Linked DNA regions of Homo sapiens: regions 1, 2, 4 and 5 are each linked to region 3. The links come from fine-mapping of genetic effects on gene expression. A gene starts in region 3. Each other region holds a variant in brackets. All regions are shown on one strand. Distances are between the middles of the regions.

The links. PIP is the estimated chance that this variant, and not a neighbour inherited with it, causes the effect.
Region 1: its variant is fine-mapped to the expression of ALDH5A1 in vagina (GTEx, PIP 0.93).
Region 2: its variant is fine-mapped to the expression of ALDH5A1 in skeletal muscle (GTEx, PIP 0.99).
Region 4: its variant is fine-mapped to the expression of ALDH5A1 in monocytes (TOPMed, PIP above 0.99).
Region 5: its variant is fine-mapped to the expression of ALDH5A1 in whole blood (TOPMed, PIP above 0.99).

What each region holds. Positions count from the first base shown.
Region 1 is chr6:25,448,775-25,453,774 of GRCh38, reverse strand. It overlaps CARMIL1 (capping protein regulator and myosin 1 linker 1), which reads right to left. Exons shown (of 37, transcript NM_017640.6): 6 at 3,780-3,877; 7 at 3,366-3,436; 8 at 3,064-3,137. It also overlaps a transcript of LOC124901281 not described here. Among named protein-coding and RNA genes, the nearest start is that of CARMIL1, 170 kb to the right of the region's middle. The variant A/C (reference allele first, on the strand shown) is at 2,255.
Region 2 is chr6:24,438,221-24,444,690 of GRCh38, reverse strand. All of the region lies in intron 20 of GPLD1 (glycosylphosphatidylinositol specific phospholipase D1), which reads left to right. Among named protein-coding and RNA genes, the nearest start is that of MRS2, 39 kb to the right of the region's middle. The variant C/T (reference allele first, on the strand shown) is at 3,514.
Region 3 is chr6:24,491,738-24,497,371 of GRCh38, reverse strand. It overlaps ALDH5A1 (aldehyde dehydrogenase 5 family member A1), which reads right to left and starts at 2,403. Exons shown (of 10, transcript NM_001080.3): 1 at 2,022-2,403. The coding sequence starts at 2,375. It also overlaps a transcript of GPLD1 not described here. RefSeq lists a silencer at 2,008-2,397.
Region 4 is chr6:24,460,384-24,466,853 of GRCh38, reverse strand. GPLD1 (glycosylphosphatidylinositol specific phospholipase D1) reads left to right here. Exons shown (of 25, transcript NM_001503.4): 10 at 35-174; 11 at 4,059-4,124; 12 at 6,455-6,470. Among named protein-coding and RNA genes, the nearest start is that of GPLD1, 26 kb to the left of the region's middle. RefSeq lists a silencer at 3,782-3,982. The variant A/G (reference allele first, on the strand shown) is at 3,056.
Region 5 is chr6:24,521,996-24,528,465 of GRCh38, reverse strand. It overlaps ALDH5A1 (aldehyde dehydrogenase 5 family member A1), which reads right to left. Exons shown (of 10, transcript NM_001080.3): 7 at 5,541-5,699; 8 at 300-469. Among named protein-coding and RNA genes, the nearest start is that of ALDH5A1, 30 kb to the right of the region's middle. RefSeq lists a silencer at 5,963-6,012. The variant ACTTCTGTTTTGT/T (reference allele first, on the strand shown) is at 2,761.

The DNA of each region.
Region 1 (5,000 bases), 960 kb before region 3:
CACAGGTTCAAAATCGTTTTCATAACAACTCTAAAACAAACTTATCCTTTCACTGTGTTGCCCTTTGCATGGAAGGTGCAAAAGCAATGGTGGGGAAAACTGCTAGCACCTGAGCACAAGCCAAGGCGGGAGTCTTCACTGGCACAAGCTCCTAGTTTTTTAAACAAACATCAATTTCATTTTAGAATGTCCTCAGTGAAGCAGTAAACATTACTCATTTTATTAAATTTTAGCTCTTGAGTACAAACATTTTAATATCCTGTGTAACAGAATGAGAAGTAAGTTCAAAATGGGAAGTATGTTCCTCTATATATCAAAGGGATCACTGTCTCAATGTAAAGTGTTTGTGTGATAGTTGCATTTTTAAGCAGAACCAGCTCCTTTTTTTCAGTGGACTATCACAAAAAAATGACAACGTATAGTTATTTAGATTTGGGATTTGGTAGACATTCCCTCTAAAATCTAAGAAGTAATCTGGTCACTTCAAGATATCACTTCACCTGATAATATGTTTGTTTTTTTTTTTCCAATAGTAAAATTGTATCTTTCAAGCAAAAATTTAAATTTTGGAAAACTTTTGTCTGCTACTATGAGCTCAACACCTCTGAAGTACTTCAAAAAACTTTTATAATATCAGTGATGATAGTTATGAAATGTCTTTCTTTTTTCTTTTGCTATTATACAAGAGGAAGATACTTGAAAGCTATGTATAACTCAATGAACCAATATTTTCTAAGTTACCAATGTACAATGCTACAAAATTATGTATGGATAAGACCCAGTCAAAGGAGAAGATAGACCAAACAGACTTTAATGTAACAAAATACAAAAAAGTTCATTGATATGGTTCTGATTCTACATTGCAACTTATCTTTAAGAAACCACCACTTGTTGAGTTTTGGTGAAGTACCAAGGAAGAATAGCCACAATTATGTGAAAAGGCTATTGAAAATACTTCCTAACTACACATCTTTAAGGCTGGATTTTCTTTTCATACTTCAGTCAAAACAACATATCACAATTTTGTGAATGCAGAAGTAGATATGAGCATCCACTTGTCTTCTATTAAGTCAAACATTAAAAAGATCTGCAAAAAGATAAGCCAATGCCACTCTTCTTGCTGATTTATTTTTGTTTTGGAAAATATATTTACTTTTTCATAAAAACAGTACCTATGTTAGTACGTAATGGTTTGCTTTATTAGTGTCACTTTTTAATTAATAAATATTTCAAATTTTAGTTTTAATTTATAATATTGTAAATACCAATGTTTTGACCCACAAAAACCAAAGATCGATCATTTTTAAGATTGTAAAGGGACCAAAAACGCTGAGACCAAACACTGGAGGACTGTAAACTTCTATCTTATTCCACGTGCAATTTTCTTGTTTTATTGGAAAATACTTACAAAGTAAAATATTTTCCCTTTTTCTTTCTCAGTTCACTTTTTTATGAGCTACACAGGAAACATCTTGTCTAAATTTGAAAGTATAAAGTTGCCTCACTTATAGGAAGAAGGAGAACTGCTCTAAGCAGGAAAAAAAAAAAATTGCCTGAGAACTGGAGGCTTTAGGCCCATCAGCCACAACTACAGACACAGCTGAGCCTGCTTCACCATCTTCCGTAGTCCCAGGCTGTGCAAAGAGGAGGTATATCCAGCTAGTATACTTTTTCCCTGGCCGATTCAGTTGGCTAGAGCTCTTCAGGGACCACACTGCAATTCTGGATTTCCTGCCAGGTAGGTGGAAAAATAATTCAAAACAGTATTCTGGGGGGGGGAGGGGGGGGCAAGATGCTAGTGATGAGATGACATATGGGCAACAACAATCCTCTGTGACACTTCAGTTGTCCAAATGGCACAAATGATATAGCTGGAATCCCAGATTTCTCTCCCAATTCCAATCAGAGAGAAAAGATTTATTGGGTTGGAGTTTATTAAGTAGGGCTGACCCCTGCCTACCTGCTACTAATTTATTAAGTAGGGCTGGAGTTTATTAAGTAGGGCTGACCCCTGCTACCCCTGCTACTAATAAGTAGCAGCACATCCAGAATTGAAGAGATTGGGATAGGCCAAGATAAATTACCAGACACTCTGGAATAGGGCCGGGCTCGACTGTTAGAGAGCAAAATAAATTTGCCAGGTCTGCTGTGCTAAGAGACATGGGGAAAAATGAAGCTTTTCTCTGAGGTCTGAATCTCACAAGCCATAGCCCTAAATATATTCAAGTCAAGATCTTAAACCTAAAAGTTTCTC[A/C]AATAACTTGTAACAGGTTTCATGACTTTATTATCACTATCACATGGCAGATACTGGCAAACTGATTTTCACCAACATACACATATACACCCTACCAATGCCCAATTCATAAACTCTGAACTAAAAGTCATATCTCAGAATTTCAGTATTAAAGTTCATCCTTGAAAAAATGTTCTAAATGGCAATTAGGTAAAATAATACTACATTTTATAGACAGGGTAGAATAGACAGACTTTTGTAGGCTGACATAAGAACCTAAGAATTATACTGTTTTTATGGTAAAATTCAGCACATTTTCTAACTACGAACTCTGGATTTTGGATACACACATGCACTGTGGACCTCCACAAGTCATCCACAGTGATAAACATATTTGAAACTATAACTTGAAAGGCAAAAATCTAGAGATTCTTAGATTGTACTGATTCCTCTTATAAAACAATTCTTTGGAGATAATGTACAGCCCTAAGTGCCAACAGAGAACTGCAGGAAAGAGAAGAGAGGGGAGAGGGGAGAGGGGAGAGGGGAGAGGGGAGGGGGAGAGGAGAAGAGAAGAGAGGAGAGGAGAGGAGAGGAGAGGAGAGGAGAGGAGAGGAGAGGAGAGGAGAAGGAAAAGAAAAAAGAAAAGAAAAGAAAAAAGAGAAAAGAGAAGGGAAGGGAAGGGAGGGGAGGGAAGGGGAGGGGAGGGAAGGGGAGGGAAGGGGAGGGGAGGGGAGGGAGGAAGGGAGGGAGGAAGGGAGGGAGGGGAGGGAGGAAGGGAGGGAGGAAGGGAGGGAGGAAAGGAGGAAAGAAGGAAGGAAGCAGCTTACCTGTGGTCAAGATGACTAAAATCTTGTAAATTCAATTCCCTGGTGTCTTGGGTAAGATAAATTGTATCCACATCCTATTTGAAATATAATTCAGTCATGTCATCAGTCCATGCAGATGACCAGGAAAGCAAGAGAGACAGTGAGAATTAGACAATGACAATGGCAGGTTTTTATGTAATCTGAGAAGTGAAGATTTTAAGTGAAAAATAAATGAAGGGAAAAAAAGAAAAACAAGCCAGCCAAACATTAGAATATTCTCCAGGAGTGTGTGTGCTCATGCACATGTACACAGACATTCTTACCCATTGTACTTCTTCCCTGTATGAAAATCCAAGCCAGTCACAAACACAGGCATACATCTGAGAAAATCCACCTGAAACATACAACAAAAACACTGACAGGTCTTTGGCAAAATGATGTTTAAATTAAAATTTTAAAGCTTAAATATGGCCGATGTTGACAATGCTGATTATCCTTTTCCTTTTTAGGGGGGAAAACAGCAAAGATTCTCCTCCCTGTTCTATAGTAAGTACATAGCAGGATGCAATACAGCTTAAATATAGGACTTTTGTCCACCAATCTAAAGTCTGTGCGCTGCTAATTACACCTTGAAACTAATTGCACCTTTACAGTAGCACACTAGGAATAGACTTAACTTCCTGGCAGGGGGATATCCATCCAGCTATTCACATTTCAGTTTTAAAATGCATGCTCACCACAGGGGCCCTGCTCAGCCACGGTCTGGCTGTCCCACAGCGCCTGGAGACTAGCCAGGCGCTCAGATGGCTCCATGGAGACTTTTTTCATGATTCTCCTGTAAGATCAACAACAACAACACATTTCACAAACCACACTTTTTGACTGCACATAGAAATAAATTTTGTCACATTCCTTTTTCTTCAACAAAGATGAGGGTCACTTCAATTTCAGTTTTTCTTCAATTTTTCAATTTTCAATTTTTTTGAGCACTAGAGAGCTAGAAATCTAGAAAACATAATAAATCCCTATAACTTTCCTTTGTAGATGAAAGGTATTTAGCAATGCAGTCTCCATGTTATAGTTTTATAATGTTAGATTTTGTTAGAATAGTTTGAAAAGTTGCTCCACTTAATGAATTATTAGATTACGTATATACCAAATATAAATTACTAATTTTCAATTAATTAAAGTAAAAATCTCTTCTGTCCTTCTATAGTGCCTTGCACACATGTCCATCAAGAAACTGATCAAGTCATACTGGAATAGTTGTTCCTTTTGCTACCTCTTCCCCTGGGCCATGATTCTTCTGGGGCAGAGAACATATGCAGCTCCTCCCAACCCCCCATCCTCCTCCTCAGAACCTAACAAAGTTCATGCCCACACATGCAGAGACAAGACAGAGTAGTGGTTAAAAGTACAGCCAACCATCCCAAAGTTTCCTTTTTCAGGAACTGACACATTTCTGAATTTGTCAGTTTCTGAGATGTTATCCCATAGGGTTATTGTGAGAAAAAATGATAATAGTACCTATCAAGTTATTAGAATAACCCCCCCAGGGCTGAGCCTGTAATTCCAGCACTTTGGGAGGCCAAGGCAGGCGATTACTTGAGCCCAGGAATTCAAGGCCAGCCTGGGCAATGTGACGAAACACCATCTATACAAAAATTAGCCAGGTGTGGTAGTATGTGCCTATAGTCCCAGCCACTCAGGAGGCTGAGGATTGCTTGAGCATGGGAGGTAGAGGCTGCAGTTAGATTGCACCACTGCACTCCAACCTAGGTGACAGAGGGAGACTCTCCAAAAAAAAAAAAAAAAAGAAGAATCCCTGGTGTGTGGTAATGTCAATATATGTTAACTGATACTGTCATTAGTTATCACAGAGTAATCATTTAATGAATAGTTTATGAATTCATTAATTCACTCAAAAAATTTTTATGAAAGATCTACAGAGTGCCAAG
Region 2 (6,470 bases), 53 kb after region 3:
TTTGTAGCGAGAGGGTCTCAACATGTTGGCCAGACTGGTCTCTAACTCCTGGGCTCAAGTAATCCTCCCACCTTGGTCTCCCAAAGTGCTGGGATTACAGGCATGATCCACTGCACCCACCCCTGAAAACATACTTTATATAAACCATTATTTTGTTTACTTTATGGGAAAGATAGTCTTTAAAAAAAAAAATAAATAAGAACCATTTCCTCCCAGATTATAAAGGTGAATTATGCTTATTGTGGAAACTTCTGAAAATACAAGGAAATATATAGAAGGAAAAAAAAAACACCCCTTACCCAGATATTTAAAAACTGAAGCTTATACTATATATGATATTGTCATGCCTAATTTTTTTACTTATATCTTAAGCACATTCTCATGTTAGTAAATATTCTTCTAAAACATGACTTTTGATATCTGCATTGCATTTTTTTAATGCCAGCATTTACTAACATCATCCTGTTGCTGGAATTGTAGGCTCGTTTCCAGTTTCACACTATTGTGAATAAGTAATTATTGAACACTCATGTACCTAGTCTTTGACTGCCTTTCTGATTAGTTTTTTGGATAGATTCCTGGAGATGGAATTACTGGAGTAGAGGTTCTAATCTTTCTAAAAGCTCTTGTTATATATCATCAAACTATTTTTCAGAAAGATTGTTGTTTCTTGCAATATGGGAAAGATTTGAATAATAAGCAGAAGTGGGTCAGACAGGCGGGGTGCAGTGGCTCACGCCTGTAATCCTGGCACTTTGGGAGGCAGAGGTGGGTGGATCAGTTGAGGTCAGGAGTTAGAGACCAGCCTGGCCAACATGGTGAAACCTGTCTAAACCTACTAAAAATACACAAATTAGCCAGGCATAGTGGCACGCTCCTGTAATCCCAGCTACTCCTGAGCCTGAACCACAACAATTGCTTGAACCCTGGAGGCAGAGGTTGCACTGAGCCAAGATGACACCACTGCACTCCAGCCTGGGTGACAGAGTGAGACTCAGTCTCAAAAACAAAAAAACAAAAAAACAAGTGGATTAGGCAAAGGAATGGCTAAATTTTTCATTAAATCGAAGACACAGCATTATAACAAAAAAAAAGTGCTGACTTAGCTTTGGAATCATGTTGGAAGCCAAAAGAATGAGGGTCGTGATAACTCAGTATACCACTGGAGGCTATTTGAGTAAGCAGCAAAACTGTTTCTCATAAATGCAGAATGTTGGCAAACTGACAAACTGCATTTGCCACCCAGAAGGAAAGCTGAGGGCAGTCACGCCCCAAGTGCCGTGTTTCTTGTGATTAGGCACATCTGAAGCCTGTTAATAATAATATGAACCTGTGATCAATTAAGCAGCTGACCAATCGTTACCTCCTCCTCCCTGCTTTTGCTAACCAATAAATGGGAAGGGCTGTGGAAGCTCGGGAGCTAGCTGCCTTTGCTCACTAGAAGCCGGGAGCTCTCTTCTTCCTCGGTTCCCCTTCCTTTAAAACAGTTTCTTTTGCTTCAAGTTTTCATTTCTACGTTCGTCCTCCTTCGTTCAGTCTTGTAATGACGCTCTCAAGCAGTAACAGTAGTAATTGCTGTGATGACGGTCTCAAGTAGTAACCATAGCAGTCAGCCACAGAATCATTTTTGCTTTTCAGAGTCTAGGGAATGATTTCTAAGCTCTTGCAACACACATTATTAACTTTATTTTCTTCACCACTCTTTCTACCCAAGTGTTGTGAATTAGAGTTTCTCAAACTTTCTTGGTTTTGGTGCCCTTACTCTCTTGATAATTTTTTTTCCTATGATAAAGTCCAATATAAAATAGAAGGTCAGGCATGGTGGGTCATGCCTGTAATCGCAGCACTTTGGGAGGCTAAGGCAGGAGGATCACTGGAGGCCAAGAGTTCAAGACCAGCCTGGGCAACACAGTGAGACCCTGTCTCTACAAAAAATTTTAAAAATTGGGCCAGGCGCAGTGGCTCATGCCTGTAATCTTAGCACTTTGGGAGGCTGAGGTGGGTGGATCATGAGGTCAGGTGATCGAGACCATCCTGGCTAACACAGTGAAACCCTGTCTCTACTAAAAACACAAAAAATTAGCTGGGCGTGGTGGTGGGCACCTGTAGTCCCAGCTACTTAGGAGGCTGAGGCAGGAGAATGGCGTGAATCCCGGAGCCAGAGCTTGCAGTGAGCTGAGATTGTGCCACTGCACTCCAGCCTGGGTGACAGAGTGAAATTCCATCTCAAAAAAAAAAAAAAAAAAAAAAAAAAAAAAAAAAAAAAAATTAGCCAGATGTGGTGGCATGCACCTCTGGTCCTAGCTACTCAGCAGACTAAGGTGGGAAGATTGCTTGAGCCCAAGAATTTGAGGCCAGCCTGGACAATATAGGGAGACCCCATCTCTACAGAAAAAGAAAAAAAGGTAGGCATAGTGATGGGCACATGTAGTTCCATCTACTGAGGAGGCTGAGGTGGGAAGATCACTTGAGCCCAGGAGTTCAAGGCTGCAGTGAGCTATGATCACACCCACTGCACTCCAGCCTGGGCAACAGAGTGAGACCCTATTTTTTAAAAGATAAATAATAATAGAAAATAAGTTTAATTATAACTTTTATGTATGTATATAATATGCTAATTTATAAAGTGTGTATAAGTATACTAATATATAATATAAATGTATATAATATGTATATATTATATATACATGTATGTGTCTATATATAATGTATGAATGTATATATAACTATATATTATATATAAATATGAATTAATGTCACCATCAGGTTATTGTTATTGATATATTTCACCCAAATTGTTCAGATTTTCCCATTATTACTTGTATTTTACTTGTATTTCACCCACACAGTTTGCGGGGCCCAGTTCCAAATAAAAATGCAGGGCCCCTTGTTAAAACATTGTTGACAATTTCAAGTCAGAGACAGGACAACATGAAGACAGGCATAGGTCCTTTCGAAATGCAGTGCCTGTGTGACCACAGGGGCACATGCCCTGCATTTATGTCCTAACCACTTAGCTTCTCTCGGCACTGTACAGCTTTTCAAGTCTTGGAATCAGGTTAGACACAACTTTCCTCATTTCCTAATCCACAGCAATTTTTTCATTAGTGCCTGCTTTTTATCACAACCATCCCTGAATATGCAGCTTTGCAAAGATGTGGCATCACTGAAACGAATGCAGGACTCTCGTGTCGTAACTGTGACCGGCCTCCACCCAGTAGTTCGTGTGGTGTCAGATGTCACTGTTATCTTTGAAATGTCAAAATATCTACAGCATCTTTGCCAGTTCACTGAAGCGCTTCAGTGTGCAGTTTGGGAATCACAGCTATAAGGCACAGATTAATCTAAATTTGAGATTTTTGATATACTTTTTTTTTTTTTTTTGAGATAGAGTCTCGCTCTCTTGCCCAGGCTGGAATGTAGTGGTGTGATCTCAAGCTCACTGCAGCCTCTGCCTCCCAGGTTCATGCAGTTCTCCTGTTTCATTCTCCTGAGTAGCTGGAACTACAGGCA[C/T]GCACCACCATGCCCAGCTATTTTTTTTTTTATTTTTAGTAGAGATGGAGTTTCACCATGTTGGCCAGGCTGGTCTCAAACTCCCGATGTCAGGTGATCCGCCCGCCTCGGCCTCCCACAGTGCTGGGATTACAGGCGTGAGCCACTGCGCCCAGTCACTATACCATTTTATATCAGGGGCTTGAACATCCGTGGATTTTGGTATCTGTGAGAGGCCCTGGAACCAATCCTTCGTGGATACTGAGGGATGGCTGTATTGTTTATAGTAGTAAAAAGCTAGAAATAGCCTAAATGTGAAAAGAATCAGATTTAAAATTTTATAATCCACAAAATCTCCATTTTGTTTAAAATGTGTGTTTATAGATATCTGCCTACCTACCTACCTATCTCACTTTCCAGAAAGAAATATATATAGTATATACATTTTCTTCTTTATGCTTTTTTTTTTTTTTTTAATAGTTGGAGTCTTGCTATGTTGCCGAGGCTGGCCATGAACTTCTGGGCTCAAGTGATCCTCCCATCTCAGGTTCACAAGTAGCCGGGACCACAGGCATGTGCCACAACACCTGGATTATGCTTCTTTTTTTTTTTTTTTTGAGTATTTTTTACACTTTTGATAATGATCAAATATAAAAGATCTTCTTGACATCTTCATAGTTTTGACTTTTGCAGTAATCCTGAAAGCTGGTGACATTAAGTAACTTACAGTTGATAATTTTTCTTTTTCTTTTTAAGCCATAGGGTCTTGCTCTGTTGCCCAGGCTGGAGTTCAATGGTGTGATCACAGCTCACTGTTACCTTGAACACCTGAGGTCAAGCGATCCTGCCGCCTCAAGCCTCTTGAGTAGGTCAGACTACAGGCACATGCCACCACACCCTACTTTTTGTAGTGATGGGGTCTCACTGCATTTCCCAGGCTGGTCTTGAACTCATGAGCTGAAGTGATCCTCCTGCCTCAGCCTCCCAAATGCTGGGATTATAGGCATGAGCCATCATGCCTGGCAAGTTTATAGTTTTTCTGAGACACAAATATGAACCACATTACAAGATGATATCCTCTTTCCTGTGGTTTTCAAGAGAGTAGAGTTGGTGAGATGCACCTGTGTTTCACAATAGCTCTTTTGTTTTCTGCTCCCTCCACTGGAAGAAAAGTTCCACATGAGAAGTAAAACACTTGTGTGTGTATTTAAAAAATACCCACCACCCCTGCATCCCAAACACAACCCTAGGGACTAGTGCTCGTGGCAGAAATTAAGGCAATATGGAGGTCTAAAAGATAATGGTCCTTAATCAGAGGGTTTAAGCATTACAGAAGGAATTCTATGTTAACTAGAAGGTATAAGCATTACAGAAGGAATTCTGTGTTATAGTAGCATTCTAGAATTTGGGAATTCATAAAGGCCTCTGCATGTAGCCCTTTTAAAAGCCAAAGTTCTTCAGAATTATTTTCAGTACTGAAATAATATAGAAATGCCTACAACATTACCTTGAGTTTTTTCTCCTTGTCTAAATGTGTATGATAATCCATTGTTTAATTTGCATGATTGAGAAGGTGAGGTGTTTTGAATGGCTGAAATTTCCAAGTGTCTAGATTCTTCTGTTTTAATTCTGAAGAATTAAAAAAACACTTTGATGAAATTATTTTAAATTATATGCTTCTCTTCTTTAACAGACTGTGATGCGTGTTAGAGATTTGGGAGTATTGATTAATTACAATTCTTCCTCATCCTTGTGCATTTCAAATCATTTCTGAAATAGATTCATGAATCATTCAGAGGGATATCAAAATATGTACTTTTGAAGAGCTGACATAGTTGGATTAGAGAACACAGTCTCAATGGGCAGCCCTATTCAGGCTTTCTAATTCTTGCTCCGAAAGCTAGACCTTGGGGTGACTTCTCTGAGATTCTCCCACATGCACTGGGGCCAGTGTTCATCCTGTGGGCGGCAGAGCCAGAGGGAGAAGCCTCAGGTATCCTCTTGCCATGGAAGGACTGAAGCAGGGAGTAGACAGAGAGCTGGAAGTGTTACTGGATTCCTGGGCGCTCCAGGGAGCTCATGGTTCCTTTAGGAGGCACGAAAAGAAAGGGAATGTGGCTGGGCTTGGTGGCTTGCACCTGTAATCCCAGCACTTTTGGGAGACTGAGGCAGGCAGATCACGAGGTCAGGAGATCAAGACCATCCTGGCTAACACGGTGAAACCCTGTCTCTACTAAAAATACAAAAAATTAGGCGTGGTGGCGCGTGCCTGTAGTCCCAGCTACTCGGGAGGCTGAGGCAGGAGAATCGCTTGAACCCAGGAAGCGGAGGTTGCAGTGAGCCGAGATCACGCCGCTGTACTCCAGCCTGGGTGACAGAGTGAGACTCCATCTCAATAATAAAAAAAGAAAAAGGAATGAAGATTTTCTCTTATTTCAACTTTTCTTGATATTTTGGGCTTTCACTCTGAATATTAACTGTTGTGCTGGCACATTGTTCTCTTAGGAGACATTGTGTTAGGTCATGTTGTTTGCCCTGTATCAGAAAGCTCCAGATTGCTGAGCTTTTAAAATACTCTTTCTTATTTCCTACTGTTTTCTAGCTGTTATATCTGACTGTTGTTGCCGACTCTGCTTTGAGCCCTCAGTGGCTTCTAGTGGACAGTTTCCCATAAACAAGGCACAAGTTTGTCCGAAAAAACAGGTCAGATTAGCTCAGTTTTACACACAAAACTCAGTGGACGCTGACGTGAGATTGTATCCACGCACTGACACTTTGCCAGCATACGGCAAACTTCTCAGAGGGCCACTAGCCCCATCAACCCACAGGTGCCATTTATATTTCTGAAATCAAAGCTGTGTTCCAAATAATAAAGTTTACAGCGAAATTCCAACAACTAGCTTTGAGTTTGTTCAAAATTCATTAATTCAAAAAACACTTTATTGAATACTTGTACAGAACCAAGCACCATGCTAGGT
Region 3 (5,634 bases):
TACACCAATCAACGCTCTGTAAAATGCACCAATCAGCGCTCTGTAAAACGCACCAATCAGCAGGATCCTAAAAGTAGCCAATCGCAGGGAGGATTGAAAAAAAGGCATTCTGATGGGACAGAAACGGAACACTGGAAGGGATAAATAAGGGAATAAAAAGCTGGCCACCACGCCCCACCCACCCAGCAGCGACAACCCACTCGGGTCCCCTTCCGCGCTGTGGAAGCTTTCTTCTTTTGCTCTTCACAATAAATGTTGCTACCACTCATTCTTTGGGTCCATGCCATCTTTAAGAGCTGTAACACTCACTGCAAAGGTCCGCGGCTCCATTTTTGAAGTCAGCGAGGCCACAAACCTACCGGCAGGAACCAACTCCGGACACACTTACCTCCTTTGGTCTTTGTATCTCATGTCCTCAATGAGACCTACCCTGATGTTACGGGCTGAATGGTGCTCCTGGCAAAATTGACATGTCGAAGTCCTAACCCCCCAGTATCTCAGAATGTGAGTGCATTTGGAAATAGGGTCTTTAAAAAGGGAATTAAGTTATGATGAGGTCATTCTGGTGGGCCCCAATCCAATCTGACTCCTGTTTTTAAAAGAAGAAGAGATTAGGACACATATACACACAGAGGAAAGACCATGTGGAGACACACAGGGAAGATTCATTCATATAACCAACTGCTTACTTTACATCCTCACTTGGGCGTGAACAGACATCTCAGACTCCATGAGTCTAAAATTGAGGTCTGATGAGATACAAAGACAAAAGCTGAGCTCTCTGCAAGCCAATGAGAGGCCTTAGAAGAAACCAACTCTGACAACACCTCGATCTGGGATTTCTACCCTCCAGAGCGGTAAAATGAGAAATGTCTGTTGTTCAGGCCACCCAGTCTGTGGTACTTTGCTATGGCAGCCCTAGCAGAGGAATATGCCTGGTCACACTGTTGATGCTGCATCTTGCCCCTTCCCTCTGGCCCGGATCCTCTCCTGCTTCTACCTTTTTTCCATATTGCACTCAGCATCTCTCACATACTTATTTGCTTAGATATTATGTTTGTTGTTTAGAGTTCTGATCTCTCTTCTGCTCCCCTTCCACCCCATGTGAGCTCCATAAGGGCAGAATCCTTCTTTCGTTTAACTGAGGTATCCCAAGCACCTCCAACAGTGCAGGGCATACAGCAGGTGCTCAGTAAACAGCTGATGGATGAATGAGTGCTAAGACTCTCTTGTACTCGTAGGGATCGCTGGATGCATTCCTTCAGAGGGAGAGCTTTGAAGGACACGGTAAAAAATTTCACTGCGTTGACTCCAGGTTTAATAATATAATATTAGAAGGAAGAAACTACTTTCTTAGTTTTCTTCTTACTCTATTCTTCCCATTTAATGGCCCTCCACCCCTTACTCCCAATTCTCCAGTGTTCTCTATGCAATGGCCAATAGCAGCATTTATCCATTTAGGGTGAAAACCTGGAGAACGCTCCTGGATTTCTCTCTTCCCCTGCACAAAACCCAAATCTTTCTACAGTTCTCTCCGTTTCCGATCCCATGATTCTGGCCAGGGGCCCTCACTACCAGCCTTCTCAAGGGCCGCTGAAGCAGCCTCCTGCGTGGGCTCCCTGCAGCTGCGGAGATATTTCAGCTACTCTGAAGGGCCACACGTGCTCTCACTTCCCTGACACCCCTCCCCTTTCTCCCCGCCCCTCCACGGTTAGGCTTGTTGACCATAACAAGCAGCTCGCTTGTATTAGGCGCTCACGTTCTGCCTCCCCTACTGGGCAGTGCATAACTTGATGAGGCTTGAGGGCAGGGGTCGTGTCCCTAGTGCCCGGCTCAAAGTGGAAGCTCCAAACTTATTTGTCGGTCGTCTCCCTTGTTGCTCTGACTTTCCACTTTGTATACCCTGGGGAACTGAGCACAGGAGGGAGGCGACGCGGCTGGTGTCACTTTGGGGTAAAGCCCCCTCTGCTCCCCGCCGTGTCCCCGGCCAGCTCTGGCCCCCTGCATCCGGGCTCTCTCACCTTGGCGGAGACCTCCCTCCAGCGGCAGAAAGCCTCGTAGGCAGCGCGCACGGCGGCGCGGGCCTCTCGCACCCCGCAGTCGGCTACCATGCCCAGAGCGGCGCCGCTGGCCGGGTCTTGCACGGGGAAGGTGGCGGCGGCCGGGAGCCAGCGGCCGCCCACGAAGCTGTCGGTGCGCAGCAGCGCCGCAGAGAGGCCCGCCAGGCGCCCAGCGTAGCAGCGGAGCTGGGCCGGGCCGGGCGCAGGCCCGGAGGCAGGGACCAGGCCGCCGGCGCGGGGGCGGAGGCGGCAGCCTGGAAACGTCGACCCGAGGCGCCGGGCCCCACAGCTCCGCAGCCAAATGCAGGTCGCCATGGCCCGGGCAACGACGGCGACAGGAAACAGGCAAGCGGGCGCGCGCGCACGGGAACGCAGGGGTCGCGGGGAAGCAAGAGGAGCGAGGAGGCGCCGGGGACGCGCGGGGAAAGCGTGGGAGCTGGCGGAAGGTTGCAGAGCCACAGAGCAGCGCCCTCTCTCCGCGTCTTTCTCGCTGCACCGCCGCGCCGCCCTCTGCACCTTGCCCTAAGCGCCGCGCGGCTTCTCTCCTGGCGCGACCTTCTCCCGGGGGAGGGTTGGGTTCGGGGATGGAGAAGGCTCGCCAGTAGATGCACCTGCGGACTGCTGTCACCTTTTCACTTTTCGGGTGCTCATTTGTCACTAACTGCTCCTGAGCCCCCAATCGCTGCTAGAGACCCACTCTCTCCCCTTAGCATCCCCCAAATTCGGCATCCCCGGAATTTGTGCGCGGTCCATAGATGCGCTGGTGCCTGCCCTAAATGCCAAGGCCGTGATCACGCTTCTTCAGTTGTAGCTCCTGAGCACGTAGTATTGATTGGGAGCGATCGTTCTCTGAGGGGTCGAAGTGTGACCCCGCGTTCTGCTGCCTGGCTGCTTTTTTGGGTGTGTGTCTAGGCATTCTCCTAGGGTTGCTCCCGATAAATAACAGCGCTTTGGAAATAAACAGACTAGGATCCAAACTCAAGTCTGTTGCCGACAAGCTGTGTGACCGACAGGTTAACCTTAGTCCAGTCACTTATAAAATAGAACCATATCTACCCCATTTTGTTGTGAGATAACGTAAAATGCTCATTACAGTTGCCACATTAAATTCAATATAGCGTTCAAAGTCATACTAGCTACCCTAGTCAAGCCACTAGTAAGATTAAAGTTGGGTCACCAACTAGTAAATGGAAGCATTTGTCAAAATTGAATCAACCAAGGTATAAGGATTGAGCATACTATCCAACCAAGGTATTTGAGCACCTTTAAACAGCATTCTTCATCCGTTAAAAAATTAGACTTGGGCTTAAGACTCTGAAAGCAGCAGGGAAGCTTAAAACCTAATGAGGATAAAAATAAAAATAGCAGGCGTATGCTGGGAATTTGTGGGTGCAAATGAAGCCCAGCCCTATGCATTGATTTTAGGTTACATATCTCCCTTTCTCAACTCCTACAGCGTTGAGAGTATCTTGCTAGCTTTCACCTTTTTCTAGGACGTTGAATTTTTTTCTAGGACATTTGCAAAATGCCGAGGCAGTAACTTTAAATTTTGACTTTGTCTTTTGCTGAGTCAGATCCATTGAGTTTTGAGCCAGTCACATATGGCAGAAGTGATAACAGTAGAGTTTAATCAATTTCACACTATTTTGCTCTGTATTTTATTGCAGGAACTGGGGAGAACCAGGGAGTCCTAATAGGGATGTGGGCCAGTAGGTATCACAGGTGGGGCTGGGGAGCTGGCGTGTTTACATCTCCTGCCTGCGGAGGGAGTTTTTGTTTTTGTTTTGTTTTGTTTTTGGTGGTGGTTTTTGTTTTTTGTTTGTTTTGTTCTTGTGAGACCGACAGACTCATTCTGTCACCCAGGGTGGAGTGCAGTGGTGCGATTTCAGCTCCCTGCAACTTCCGCCTCCCGGGTTCAAGCGATTCTCCTGCCTCAGCCTCCCGAGTAGATGGGGCTACAGGTGTGTGCCACCAAGCCCAGCTAATTTTTGTATTTTTAGTAGAGACAGGTTTTCACCGTGTTGGCCAGGCTGGTCTTGAATGCCTGACCTCAAGTTATCCGCCCTCCTTGGCCTCCCAAAGTGCTGGGATTACAGGGCTCATTTCTACTGGCCTGGGGAAATCATTCAATTGAGGCCTCAATCAACTGAGGCCCAGAAAAGCCAAGTTAATTGTGGCTGCCTCTCTTGTTCAAAAATTACCCTAGCCCACTTACCTTTTTAAGGTTCTATTTCAAACGGTACCCACTCCCTTTCCCAGATGACTTATCCATTACGCACAGTAGGTACGATGCCAAGGGCCCATAAAACTTTTAGGAGCACTCACAAATGTTTAATTTATTCTAAAATCTGAAGAAAAGAAGTTTTAGGTGGCATATTAATATGTTAATCTTACACCAATGCAGATGTAAAATGTGATTTCTATTTATTGTTTACTTATTTTTGTGACAGGAAGTACTTCACAAAGGCAAAAGCGCCTGGAGCTTAGAAAGTTCACAATGTGGCCCTCCCCTTTTCCCTCAGTTTTGTGCCCCTCTTCAAGCCCCCATTCAGAGTGTAAACAATTTCCTCCTGGCTCCTGTCTTACTTCCAGCCTGTCCTGATGCCCCCTAGCGCCTGGCTGGGTGTCTGTCCTTACCAGGGCCTACAAGGACAAGACCATCAGGTGAGAGGGACCTCTTCCCTCCTTTCTCCTTTGGCTGCCCTTGTCCTGGGAACCTCCACTCCCCAGTTCCCACCCTTATTCATCCTCTCCCCCATTTTCTTTTTCTTTTTTTTCTTTCACTTTTTTTTTTTTTTTTTTTTTTGAGTCAGGGTCTTACTCTGTCGCCCAGGCTGGAGTGCAATGGCACGATCTCAGCTCATTGCAACGTCTGCCTCCTGGGTTCAAGTGATTCTCCTGCCTCAGCCTCCAGAGTAGCTGGGAGTACAGGTGCGCGCCACCATGCCTGGCTAATTTTTGTATTGTTTAGTAGAGATGGGGTTTCACCATGTTGGCCAGGCTGGTCTTGAACTCCTGACCTCAGGTGATCTGCCCACCTCGGCCTCCCAAAGTGCTGGGATTACAGGCATGAGACACTGTGCCCAGCCTCTTCTCCCCCATTTTCTAGACTGGCCCACATAAAGCTTGAGACCCTCTGGCTTTCAAACCTGTATTCTCCCTACTCACTCCTTAATGTAACTGTATGTTTACTTTTCACCTTGGGTCTCTATTTCCAGAAGAGTTCTAAATGGTAGAATCATGCTGTCTTGTTTATAACAAAGCCACCTATATTAGGAAAGGGGGGTGTGGGGCAGAAAGAAAAATATTTCCATATGCTTATTATTTGTCAGATAGTAATATTGTGAGCTACGTTTTAACTTTCTTTAAAGTCATATCTTTGATGTTTTTATTGTTACCAAAGTAATACAAACTTCATAAAACTGCAAGCAATATTGTCATATAAAGACCATATTCATAACTATCACACTAAGCAAATAATTTCCTCTTATTTTATTACATTTATACGTTTATGTCATTCTGAATCTCAAATACAAAAAAATGCATAATGAGAAATTGAGACATTTGGGATTAG
Region 4 (6,470 bases), 31 kb after region 3:
TATTCATTTTATTTTTTCTTTCTCTCTGCCATAGTTATATCCCACTTACTCTACAAAGTCCCCGTTTTTGGTGGAACAATTCCAAGAGTATTTTCTTGGAGGACTGGATGATATGGCATTTTGGTCCACTAATATTTACCATCTAACAAGCTTCATGTTGGAGAATGGGACCAGGTGAATTCATATTGCATTTCTATTACCAATCACTCTCTGCCTTTTTACCCCATCCCCCAACATAACTCTCAGGTTTTTCAACTGATCACATAAAAACAAAACAAAACAATCTCATGAAGTGCTTTTCTAACCTATTCAAAGAGGGAAAGAATGGAAACTCAGTGATCTTATAAACTTGACTGGTTCCCATCCAGTTGGCTTGGTTGATGCTGCTCGTGTTTTAGAAATAGAGAGACAGTTATTGCAATATTTGGGGTCTGTGAGAAATGGCTCAGCCAGGCAGGAATCAGCCTCCACAGGTGGTGCTCCATTTGTTTCTTTCTTTTTATTTTGAGACAGAGTCTTGCTCTGTTGCTCAGGCTGGAGTACAGTGGCACGATCTCGGCTTCACTGCAACCTCTGCCTCCTGGGTTCAAGGGAGTCTCGTGCCTCAGCCTCCCAATCAGCTGGGACTACAGGTGTGCACCACCATCCCTGGCTAATTTTTTTGTATTTTTAGTAGAGATGAGGTTTCGCCATATTGGCCAGGCTGGCCTGAAACTCCTGGCCTCAAGTGATCCACCTGCCTTGGTCTCCCAAAGTGCTGGGATTACAGGCATGAGCCACTGCACCCAGCCTCCATCTGTTTCTTTTGGGAAAACCCATGCTGGGGGCTGGAGTGCCAGGTCTCCACAGGTCCCAGAGTGGCTGTGTTCTTGCTGTGGTGACACACCTCTCCACCCTGACTACACTCTCAGGGTTTCAGGGTGTCAAAGGATACCTCACCTAATACTAAAAAAACAGAAGCAAATAGAGCTATAGCTACATGCCCCGACACACACTCCAACGTAAAATGAGAAATAAATGCATTTGTAAAACATTCTGTTGAAATTTGACATCTAGCCCAGATGGGACAGCTGCTGAACCTCCAGTTCCTTTTCTTCTCCTAAGCATGCTCAGGACAAGAATTAATCAGAAACTCAGCCGAAATATAGATAAGGTAGACTGTGATTGTCCCCACTTCTAGCTGTAGTAGATCATTAGACTCTCACAGAGTCTTACACTACCCCTAGATCAGAGGGAGCCAAGGCCCTTCTGATAACCCATTTCTTTCTTTTTCTTTTTTTTTTAAGAGCACATGTGTTTTTGTTTTTTGTTTTTGAGATGGGGTCTTGTTCTGTCACCCAGGCTGGAGGGCAGTGGCATTATCTCAGCTCGCTACAACCTCCACCTCCTGGGCTCAAGTGATTCTTGTGCCTCAGTCTCGAGTACCTGGGACCACAGGCTCACACCACTGCACCAGGCTAATTGTTTGTATTTTTGGTAGAGATGGGGTTTTACCATGTTGCCCAGGCTGGTCTCCACCTCCTGAGATCCAAGTGATCCACCCGCCTCAGACTCCCAAAGTGCTGGGATTACAGGCATGAGCCACCATGCGTGGCCGGAAAACCCATTTCTTTTTTTTTCTTTTCTTTTCTTTTCTTTTCTTTTTTTTTTTTTTTTTGAGACAGAGTCTTGCTCTGTTGCCCAGGCTAGAGTGCAGTGGTGCGATCTCGGCTCACTGCAACCTCCACCTCCTGGGTTCAAGCAATTCTCCTGCCTCAGCTTCCCGAGTAGTTATGACTACAGGTACTCACCACTACACCTGGCTAATTTTTGTATTTTTTGTAGAGACAGAGTTTTGCCATGTTGGTTGGCCAGGCTGGTCTCGATCTCCTGACCTCAAGTGATCCACCCACCTCTGTCTCCCAAAGTGCTGAGATTACAGGCGTGAGCCACCATGCCTGGCCCAGAGAACCCATTTCTGATCATGCTGTTGGACATGCAGCCTCTCCCCACTACTGACCTGAACCGGGTTGAGATGTGGGTGTGGCTAGGAAGCACAGGGCAGCCCCCGAATCGGGGAAAGGGCAGAGCGGGAAGCTTAGGCTGTACCACCAGCAGTGGGAAAGAGGGTTCTCTGGGCGGGACCTGTGCCTGGGAGACTGTTCCAGGTCAGGATCATAGCAGAGTTAGCTGTTCATAAGTTGGAATGGCCTACAGAATGTAGATCCAGAATATTATACTGGGTGATATTCCTTTACCCTTATAAACATTTGCTAGTACCCAAACAGTGTTAACCATAATTATATATTGTGTTGATTTGAAACAAAATTCCCTTTGATGACAAATTCGACCTTAGCTTGGTACATAATAAACTTGTTTTTAACAATCGGTGAGTAACAATTTGGCAGGGATAGCAATCTCATATGAATGCCACTTTTAATAGTGAAATAAACCTCAACTAAAATCCCCAAGCTCTCCCGTGGACCTGGGTTTTTAGGTGCATACTGCCGTGGTTGTACAGAATTTAAGGGATCTGCCACTCACTACTGAGTTATCTGGAACAAGTTGCTAAACCTTCCAAAATCTTATTTCCTCACCTATAAAATTGGGACAGCAATACTATTTTTACCATAGGATTTTTGTGAGGAGTAAATTAGATCAGTCATGTAAAGGGTTTAGAATAGAGTAAGCACTTACTAAGTATTGGTTACTATTATTATTAGAAGGAAGCAAAGTTTGTATTGGAAGGACTCATAACATAAGGGCATGTTTGAGTGATTGACCTGCACTTACTTGTTTTATATAATCCAAACTGGAAAACATTTTTTGGTGTTCAATTTTGGTTTGGTTCTCCAAATAGCTAAGGAAAGATAGCTGGACCTTATTCTTTCGTTAGGAAAAGATAATTGAGAAAGAACATATTTCTTGTCTCTTGATCCCTGTCCCAATTTACCAAGGTGTAAAATTCCATGAGTTGATTGCTTGTTTGCATACATATACAAAGAAAGATTCATCAGAATTTATGAAAATGTATGGGAAATTCAGAGAAGTCTCCAAAAAGAGACAACACAAAAAA[A/G]TTCATAACAGAAAGGAAAACATAAATATGTTCATAGTAACAGGCATTTCCCAGCTTACTAACACAGGTTATCTTCCAAAGCTCACTTATGTTATTTGGTATATTTTCCTTAAAAAAGCAATGAAGTAGTGGTAGTTACATTGCCAAGAACTCTACTCACCTCAAACTCTATTTGAAAGTATAGTGCTAATGCTGTAAGGCTGCCTTTTGTGTCCTGTGGTGGACAAGAAAAGGTCCAAAGAGAGAACCTTTTCCTCAGCTCAAACCTGGCCAGAGAAATGTTTTGGTAGGAAGAGTCTGCCTTCAGCTTTTTCCCACCTCCTTTTTGGAATTCCTTTTTCAGCAACTAATTTTCTTCACCCCTACACTCCACATTACTTTTGTATTACCCCAGCCTCCCTCAGTGACCTCCATACAAATCTTAAGATAGTCTTCATTCCAGAATACTCTTCTTATATTAATACCTGCTTCCTCAGTGCTTCTGTTCAGTGTTGGGGGAAAGCCTCTATTGGGAAGAGTTTATCTCTTATGTTCTCAGAGGCTTTTTCACTTGTAAAAGGGGATCCTTCATTAGCTATTTAATTATTGAAATTATGGAATTTTTTTTAAAGAAATGAAATTGAGAAATTCAGACACATTTAGGCATAAATGTGTATAATTGGGCAGAAGGTGACATAATTGGTAACCAGTGTTGATAACACTCTCAAATTCTGAGACGTTTCGTGTTAGCGTGGAACAGCTCAGCAGGTGGAGCGGGGAGGGAAGAGGAAGGCTGAGTCTGGGGTGACTGGCAGCATGAGCCTTCCTGGATTACCATGATAGTGACAACCGTCAGCCTACCCACCCTCTCTGGGAGAACATGGGCTCTTAATTAGTCCTGTATGGCTAGGTAATAAACACTTTAAGCCTTTGGGAGATGATTGAAGCGCACTACCGATTCTCGGTAAAATTCATGCTTGTGAAGAAGTAGATAAATGGCTAACTCATTTGACTGTTTCCTCAGTGACTGCAACCTGCCTGAGAACCCTCTGTTCATTGCATGTGGCGGCCAGCAAAACCACACCCAGGGGTAAGTGGATTCCAAAATTGTTCATAGAAAAAGTACATCTCACCTGGAGGAGATGCCCTATAGAGGTTGAGAACACGGGATCTGTTGAGAGACAGCTGTAGGTTCAAATTCCAGATTTGTCACTTGCAGCTGTGTGATTTTTAAACAAGCTGCTTGATTTTTGGAGCTATAGCTTCCTCCTTTTGCAAAATGGAAAAAGCACATCAACACTCCCAGAATTATGGTGTGGATGACATGCAGTGGTGGATGTAAAGCAATTAGCACATGTTGAGTTGCTCATTAAACGGTAGTTAGTGGCTGGGCACAGTGGCTCATACGTGTAATCCTAGCACTCTGGGAGGCTGAGGCAGGAGGATCCCTTAAGTCCAGGAGTTCAGGACCAGCCTCAGCAACATAGTGAGACCCCTATATCTACAAAAAATGAACAAAATTAGCCAGGTATGGTGGTGTGTGCCTGTAGTCCCAGCTACTTGGGAGGCTGAGGCGGGAGGATTGCTTGAGCCTAGGAGTTCGAGGCTGCAGTGAGCTGAGATCAGGCCAGTACACTCCAGTCTAGGCAACAGAGTGAGATCCTGTCTCAAAAAAAGAAAGAAGAAATGTAGTTAGTATTATTGTAACTATCAATATTATTGTCTTACTCATAAACTTCACCCAGATTTTACATGAAAATTTATTTATTGATGAGACAGTGTTGGGAGAAGCCCTCAATGTTAAGGGCCAGAAGCCTGGTTTGTATTTTAAGAAATGATATTTTCTGCTGGAGTCAGGTACCAACCGACAGTCATTTATGCATTCATTTAATAAGTTATTAATATTACAAATATGTGTATATTTATTAATAAAATAGAACAAAATAACACAAATAATAAAATATCATTTATTAATCAGTACGTGCCAGGAACTGGTTCAGGCACTAGAGATATCATTGTGAACAAGACAGAAACAGTTCCTGCTCTCAGGTATATGGCCTGGCAGGTAGCTGGGCACTAAACAAGTAATTGTGGACATTGTTAAGTGTTAGGAAGAAAAAATGCAAGGTGCTCTGGGGATTTGCAAGCGTCCTGGCCTGGGCACAGGAGGGTTCTCCTTGAAGAAGTGATGGCTTAACAGATATTTAAGTGTCAGGAATTAAAAATGCAGGGTGTTCTGGGGATTTGCAACAGAGCGTCCTGGCCCTGGGCACAAAAGAGCTCTCCTTGAAGAAGTGATGGCTTAACCGGGATATTTAAGGATGATCAAGAGTGAGATATACTCAAAAGTAGAGTATTGCAATGATAAAGGTACTGAGAGGAATGATCTTAGCACTTTGGAAGAATGAAAATTACACAGAAAGTGTTCAGTGAAGTCGTCATTGTTGTATTTGAATTGGGTAACTTTTTTTTTTCTTTTTCTTTTTTTCCTAGCAAACCATTCCTTCAACATACTTTGTTGTTGTTTAATCACATTGAGCACCTTTTGATTAGGCTTGCAATCTTTCTTGGGGTTGCCAGAACCCTGACACTAGTTGGTGTCATGCCCAGGGCCCCGTCACTTACGGCTGTTGTCCACTCCCTACTTCAGTCATTTCTGAAGCCTCTCTGGCTCCCTGAGTCATCTGCTTTTTGGCTGGTTGACATCTTTGAATGTGAAAATGTATTTTTATTGTATAATTAATTTTAGCATGTCTTTGAAGATAAATCAGTATGCTGGCTGGGCGTGATGGCTCACACCTGTAATTCCAGCACTTTGGGAGACCGAGGCAGGTGGATCACCTGAGCTCAGGAGTTCGAGCCCAGCCTGGCCAACATAGTGAAACTCCATCTCTACTAAAAATACAAAAAAATCAGCTGGGTGTGGTGGTGCATGCCTGTAGTTCCAGGCTACTCAGGAGGCTGAGACAGGAGAATTGCTTGAACCCAGGAGGCGAAGGTTGCAATGAGCCGAGATCGTGCCACTGCACTGCAGCCTAGGTGACAGAGCAAGACTCCGTCTCAAAAAAAAAAAAAAAAAATCAGTATGCTTGCAAAGCAGTTTCCCCACCAGCTGATACCTGTTGCTAAATTTTTTCATAATCTGGAAAGAATTGAAGCCTTTTACTCCTACCATAGAGCTCTGATATTATAGGAAATATGTTTTATAAGGATAGGCTTTTAAGCCTTAGAAATGTGTTTACTAAAAGATTTTGTGAAATGAAGGTTTTCTAAAACTTTCTGTGTTGCTCCTTCAGCCTTCTGACGTTAAAATTTTGTGGTCTTTTAACCTGTGATTAACTTGACTATATTCTTCAACTCAGTTTTACAGGGGGTTGTTTTCTCAGTCGTAACCAGTTTATTCCTCTTTCTCTTCAACAGCTCAAAAATGCAGAAA
Region 5 (6,470 bases), 31 kb before region 3:
GCTTTAACCAAGGAGGCAGAGGTTGCAGTGAGCCAAGATCGCACCATTGCACTGCAGCCTGGGCAACACAGTGAAACTCCATCTCAAAAAGAAAAAAAAAATAGAATTTGATAAATTTTATGGTCCAAATAAGTTATGATTTTTTTAAAAACCCATAAATTGCACTCTGCTCTTCAATGGACTCAACACAACTGTCTGCCTCCTGGCCAGACCTCAAAGCAGCCCAGGAATCTCTTTCAGGGTTTCCTATGTTCTCTTCTATTCTTCCTCCCATCTCCCCGCTGGCTGGAGGATCTTACTTGATAACTGGTGCCAGAGGCCCGAAAGTCTCTTCATGAGTGCACAGCATGTCCTGGGTGACATTGCACAGCAGGGTAGGCTCAAAGAAATTTTTTCCAAGTTGGTGTCGTTTTCCACCTGTCACAACGGTGGCACCTTTAGAAACGGCATCATTCACCTGTTTCTCCACCTGTGTAATGAGGAAGAAAAAAAGCTTTCCACATGATACAATCTTTTAGAATGTTTAAACTGCAGAAAACTATAACTAGTTCCATTTTTTTTTCTTTTTCAAAAAAAGTAGGTTAACAATAAAGCATGCTGGTTTCCTTTTGTAGAAGGAACCACATTTGCAGAGATTCAGAAGCAAGAGTGCCACCTTCCTCCTTGGTCTTTGATATCTTCTAGCTGTTTGATCTTCCTATTTGTTGAATGGTCTAATATATATTCGCTTCTTTCTAGGCCTGCGGCTCAGCCGTTTGCTTGGATTTGCTTTCATTGCATTCTGCGGTTATTTCTAGCTTCTTGGATCCCATGTTGTCCTATTTCCTGAACTGAGTTTTTGTTGCTTTCTGACACACATAATCTCAAGTAGTTGTTATTTATTTATTTGTTTTTGAGATGGAATCTCGCTCTGTCACCCAGGCTGGAGTGCAGTGGCATGACCTTGGCTCACTGCAACCTCTGCCTCCCAGGTTCAAGCGATTCTCCTGCCTCAGCCTCCCGAGTAGCTAGGATTATAGGCACCCACCACCGCGCCCGGCTAATTTTTGTATTTTTAGAAGAGACAGGGTTTCATCATCTTGGCCAGGCTGGTCTCGAACTCCTGACCTCGTGATTCACCCGCCTTGGCCTCCCAAAGTGCTGGGATTACAGGAGTGAGCCACGAGGCCTGGCCAAGTAGTTGTTTTAAAAAAGATGCACTGGATGTGGTCTAGTTTCTGAATTTTCATACACCAAGTTTCTGGTGTTTTGTACTCCACCTGATTGATAATTTGCTTGAGTACAGAATTCTGATACAAAATAACTTTCAGAACTTTGAGTGCACTTCTCCACTTCCGGTGTTGCTGAGGAAGTTTGAGCCAAAAATGGTTCTCACCCTTTTTCTTCTTGATAGCTTTTTCCTCTCTGAAATCTCCTAGGATCTTCTATGCTCTGATATTCTAAAATTTTAGCAATACTATATATATATATATATATATATATATATATATACACACACACATATATATATATTAGATATATATATAGAATATATAGTAGATATATATAGAATATATATATAGTAGATATATATATAGAATATATATATAGAAGATATATATATATAGAATATATATATATAGAGAAGATATATATATATTCCCTTTTCATTCATCCTACTTGGTAAGCAGTGAAATCTTTCAATCTGCAGAATAATTATTTTCCCCTAACTCTGAGAAGTTTCCATCTATTATTTACTTGGTAATGTCACTTCCTCCATTTTCCCAATTATTTCACTCCAGAACTCCTACTACTGGACGGGTATTAACAGGAGTTCAGATTAGTTCTGATTTTTTTTTGCATTTCTATTATATTTTTTGCCTCTCTATAGTTTGCTTTAAACTCCATAAGATCTCCGAAATTTTATCATCTACTTCAGGTACCGAATCTTGTGACAGTCATATGTCTAATTTCTACAGACTCTTTGTTTTCATTGCTTCATTTCCTAGAACATACTTCTTTTTTTATTATTATTATACTTTAAGCCTAGAACATACTTCTTATTAACAGTTTACAGATGTACTATCTTCCCAAAACTCTTGCAGGACACTATGAGATTTTTAGAAAATTTCCTTCCAGTTCCCTAATTTATCTGCTTCCTTCAGGGACTATTCTGTTTGTTCTTCCTGACCTTTCCTCTTATGTGCTGGTGGTTTTCCCATCATGATCCTTGGTTGTTCATCTTTCTGAATGAAGGACTGAGTTGTCGAAACTAACCTGGTCAGCTCCTTCTCAGCTCCAGCAGTGTGTTTGGGGGACACACACACACACAAGGACTGGGTTGATCAATTTGGGGATGTGTGGCATGAGTGGTCTTTGCTGTTTTAAGCTTGGGTTTATTCTAACTTGCAGGCTTCACATAAGGGCAGCTCCCTTCCCCAAAAGGCAAAGTCGAGAGAGCCCTACCCTGAGGTACCTAGCCTCGCTCTTGAAGCTGTAGTCTGCCTAGATACCTACTATATTTCTTCAGAAAAGCTGTCCTGCCCAGAACAAATGCCTCTGCTGTCTCATGTGTCTTGGTGGTGGTCGTGGTGAGAAGGGATGGTGGGAATGACCCAGAAAATTGTGCAGAAGTAGAATCAACCAGCTTCATCTCCTCCCCTCCTCCTATTCCTACTTTCTGTAGCCACCAATTCTAGAAAGGCTCTGTCGTTTAAAATGGCACCAATTTCCTCTGCAGGGTTCCCCTGGGTAGACCCATCTATTTTGACTTCTGTTTTG[ACTTCTGTTTTGT/T]TGCTCAGGCTGGGCTGGGGTGCACTGGTGCGATCTCTGCTCACTGCAACCTCCGCCTCGTGGGTTCAAGAGATTCTCTTGCCCCCGCCTCCTGAGTAGCTGGGACTACAGGTGCTTGCCACCACACCTGGCTAATTTTTCTTTTCTTTTTTTTTTTTTTTAGAGATAGGGTTTCACTGTGTTGGTCAGGCTGGTCTCAAACTCCTGACCTCAAGTGACCCACCCGCCTCAGCTTCCCAAATGCTGGGATTATAGGCGTGAGCCACTGTGCCCGGCCCTCAGCTGAATTTTCTATAGGGTTTCAGGAAGGTAAATATAGGTGTGAGTGCATTCTGTCTTTGAGACTGACTCTTTTGAAATCCATGCCCCTCCTGCAATGCTCTCATAGTGCATCACCTGCAACTAATCCCCATCGGCTAGGATGGCTTACTTTCTATGAATTTTATATTATAAAAATAATTCTACTTAACAAAAATACCCCCTTCCTCCCCAAATATAATCTGCTCTGCCCTTTTCTTGTCATATTAATGTGAGATGCAGTGTTTTTTTCCTAGAACCCACTCTATGACAGTATGTACACTAAAGCCAACACAATGAAGTGTTTTTAAACAAGGTGGTTTCCACCAAATTTCTCTCCAGCAAAAAAGAAATCTCGCTGTCTGCTTGTTTGAAGTCCTGGCGTACAGCACCATCTGGAGGACAATGTCTGCGTCTTCCCTTTGGGGAAAAAAATCTTCAAGACAGAGTGGTTTCCCAGACTGGCTGCAAACTAGCATCATACTGGGGCACTTAGAAAATGCCAATGCCTAGGCTGACTACACATAAATTAACACCTAGTCTTCTTGGATGGGTCCCAGGCAACTGTAGTCGATAAAGGCACGGTGTGAGTTAAGGACCACCACTCTAGGACTTGAACCACAGCTGGCCTAGACCCAAATTGCCTTCACTAGACAAGTGAATACCCCTGCCTTGTCCCCAAGGTCCAAAGTCACCTCTAAAATGCAGGTGGTTCCAATGTAAATTTTAATGTATTTTCTTTATCTAGAGTAATCCCAAGACAGTAACTAGAAATTTATCAGAGCTCTGTCAAACCTCGAGGCTTCCCTGGGTTTCCCAAGGCAATGGATGTGGGTTCAGCTGAGTTGACTGCCCACGGGGTGGAGGCAGCCATGGAGTCAGGGCTTGGTTCTCAGGCTCTGAGGAGGTTGAGGAACAGCGGTGGGGCTGTGCTTCCCATGATGAGTACTGACTTGGCTGTCACTTGCTTCTGGTTCTTCAGTTGCATCCAGGGGCTGGCTGTGCCTCCACTGTGTGTCTCCCTCTGACCACCTCTCCTCCCTTCTTTCCCACACACAATCTTCAGCTTCTACTGTCTTCCTGATTTAAAATATTCCGTTAAAACCATTTCTGGGTAGGCATGGTGGCTCACGCCTGTAATCCCAGCACTTTGGGAGGCCGAGGCAGGTGGATCACCTGAGGTCAGGAGTTCGAGAGCAGTCTGGCCAACATGTGAAACCCCAGCACTACTAAAAATACAAAAAGTAGCCAGGCGTGGTGGTGGGTGCCTGTAACCCCAGCTACTCGGGAGGCTGAGGCAGGAGAATCAATTGAACTCAGTGGGGCGGAGGTTGCAGTGAGTCAAGACTCACCACTATACTCTAGCCTGGGCAACAGAGCGAGACGCCGTCTCAAAAAAAAAAAAAAAAAACACAAAAAACTGGATGTTTGATATTACAAGAAACTTTCTTGTGACTCCAAAATGGATTTTTTTAAAACAGTAGAATAAGGAGAGAAGTCTCATATAGCTAGTAGTATGGATTATAACATTTTTTTAAACAAACAAATCTTTCCTAAAAGCAGTTTCCCCTCAATATCTCTAAATCCTGAACGCGGCATCTGTGATTCTGCACCCCCGGCTGGGATACTTTCATGAAGGACTGTTTTAGACAGGGATTTTGTCATCAAGAGAAGAAAGAACAGGACAACATCAGCATTACAGCCGAAACGCAAACCATCTCAAAACCAAGCCAGTCTTCCATTCCATAGGTGTTCCAAAAGATGAATGAACTTTGTCTCAAGATCCTAATTGCTGAGGCAGTGAGGGATAGAATTATCATCACTATAACAAAATTTAGGGAGGACAGTAAAGAGCTACAGTGACAGACCGCATGGGGACTTGGTGCAATGGCAGGGCTATAGCAGCTCATGACCAGACAACAACCCGATTCATATAACTGGTAGGCAGAATTCACTTTTCTCAGGTTTCTCCATTGTTTACAAAATAGGCTTGCTGGGCACTTTACCAAAATGACTTTTTTGTTTTCATTTTTTTTTTTTGCCTTTTAACATCATTTTTTTTAGCTATTATTAATTTTTTACTTATTTTAACCTTTGTGGTTTTTGTATGAAAACATCATTGAAAATTCCATTCGATTCCATGTATAGATGTAGATCTCTCATACTCTATACTCTAATCAGGATAGTTAGCACATCTATCGCCTCAAACATTGATCATTTCTTTATACTGGGAACGTTCAAAATCTACTCTTCTAATAATAGCTATTTGAAAATATACAATACATTGTTGCTAATTACAGTCATTCTACAGTGCTGTAGAACACCAGAGCTTATTCCTTCTGTCTAGCTGTAATATTCTGTCAACCCACCCCTCTCTATCCCCACCCCTCCAGCCAAAGTGTTTTTTGCTGATTAAGCTTTTCATATTGAAACCATGAAATTTACTTTCACAAATAATACAATATACTTACCTTTTCTACCGCTTTTTCATTAATTAATGGGCCCTGAGTAGTTCCTTCCTCAAATCCATTACCTACGCGCAGGTTCTTCTTCATGGCCTCGGCGAATGCTTTTACAAAGGCATCATGGATGCCCCTTTGCACCAAGAATTGGTTTGAGCAAACACAAGTCTGGACAGGAGACAAAAACAAACCCACACAGTCTGTCAGAAGCTGCAGACCTGACCAGTGAACGTGTGGCTGCTACCGCCTCTCTGTGAAAACACTTCCCTCGGTGGTTGTCATGTGCTCAAACTGCCATTTTCCTCCTCACGTGGGCTTGGCCCCAAAGATAAAAGCACTGAGTCAGTGCATGTTCCCCTCCAGTTCCCTCCACAGCTGCTATGCTACACAGCTGCTATGCATCAGTGATTAGTTGGCAATAAGCACCTGTACACACACACACACACACACACACACGAAAGAAAAGAAAAAAAAGCCACCCAATCCATGTTTTTTTCAAATGGCTTTTATTTTGTTTCCCTGGGGGGTGGGGAAAGAGTGCAATTCTCCTAGGAGACTGTGATGCTGCAGCAACAGCAGAGGCTAAGAGGAATGTGGTCCAACACCAACTTATAGTCTTTTGTTTTGCTGACACAGGGTCTCGCTCTGTCGCCCAGGCTGGAGTGCAGTAGTGATGAGTTCACTGCAGCCTTGACCTCCAGGGCTCAAGTGATTCTTCCACCTCAGCCTCCCAAGTAGGTGGGACTATAGGCACTTGCCACCATGCCCAGCTAATTTTTAATTTTTTTTGGCTGGGCGCAGTGGCTCATGCCTGTAACCCCAGCACTTTGGGAGGCTGAGGTGGGTGGATCACCTAAGGTCAGGAGTTCGAGACTAGCCTGGCCAACATAGTGAAACCCATCTCTACTAAAAATAGAAAAATTAGCTGTAGTCCCAGCT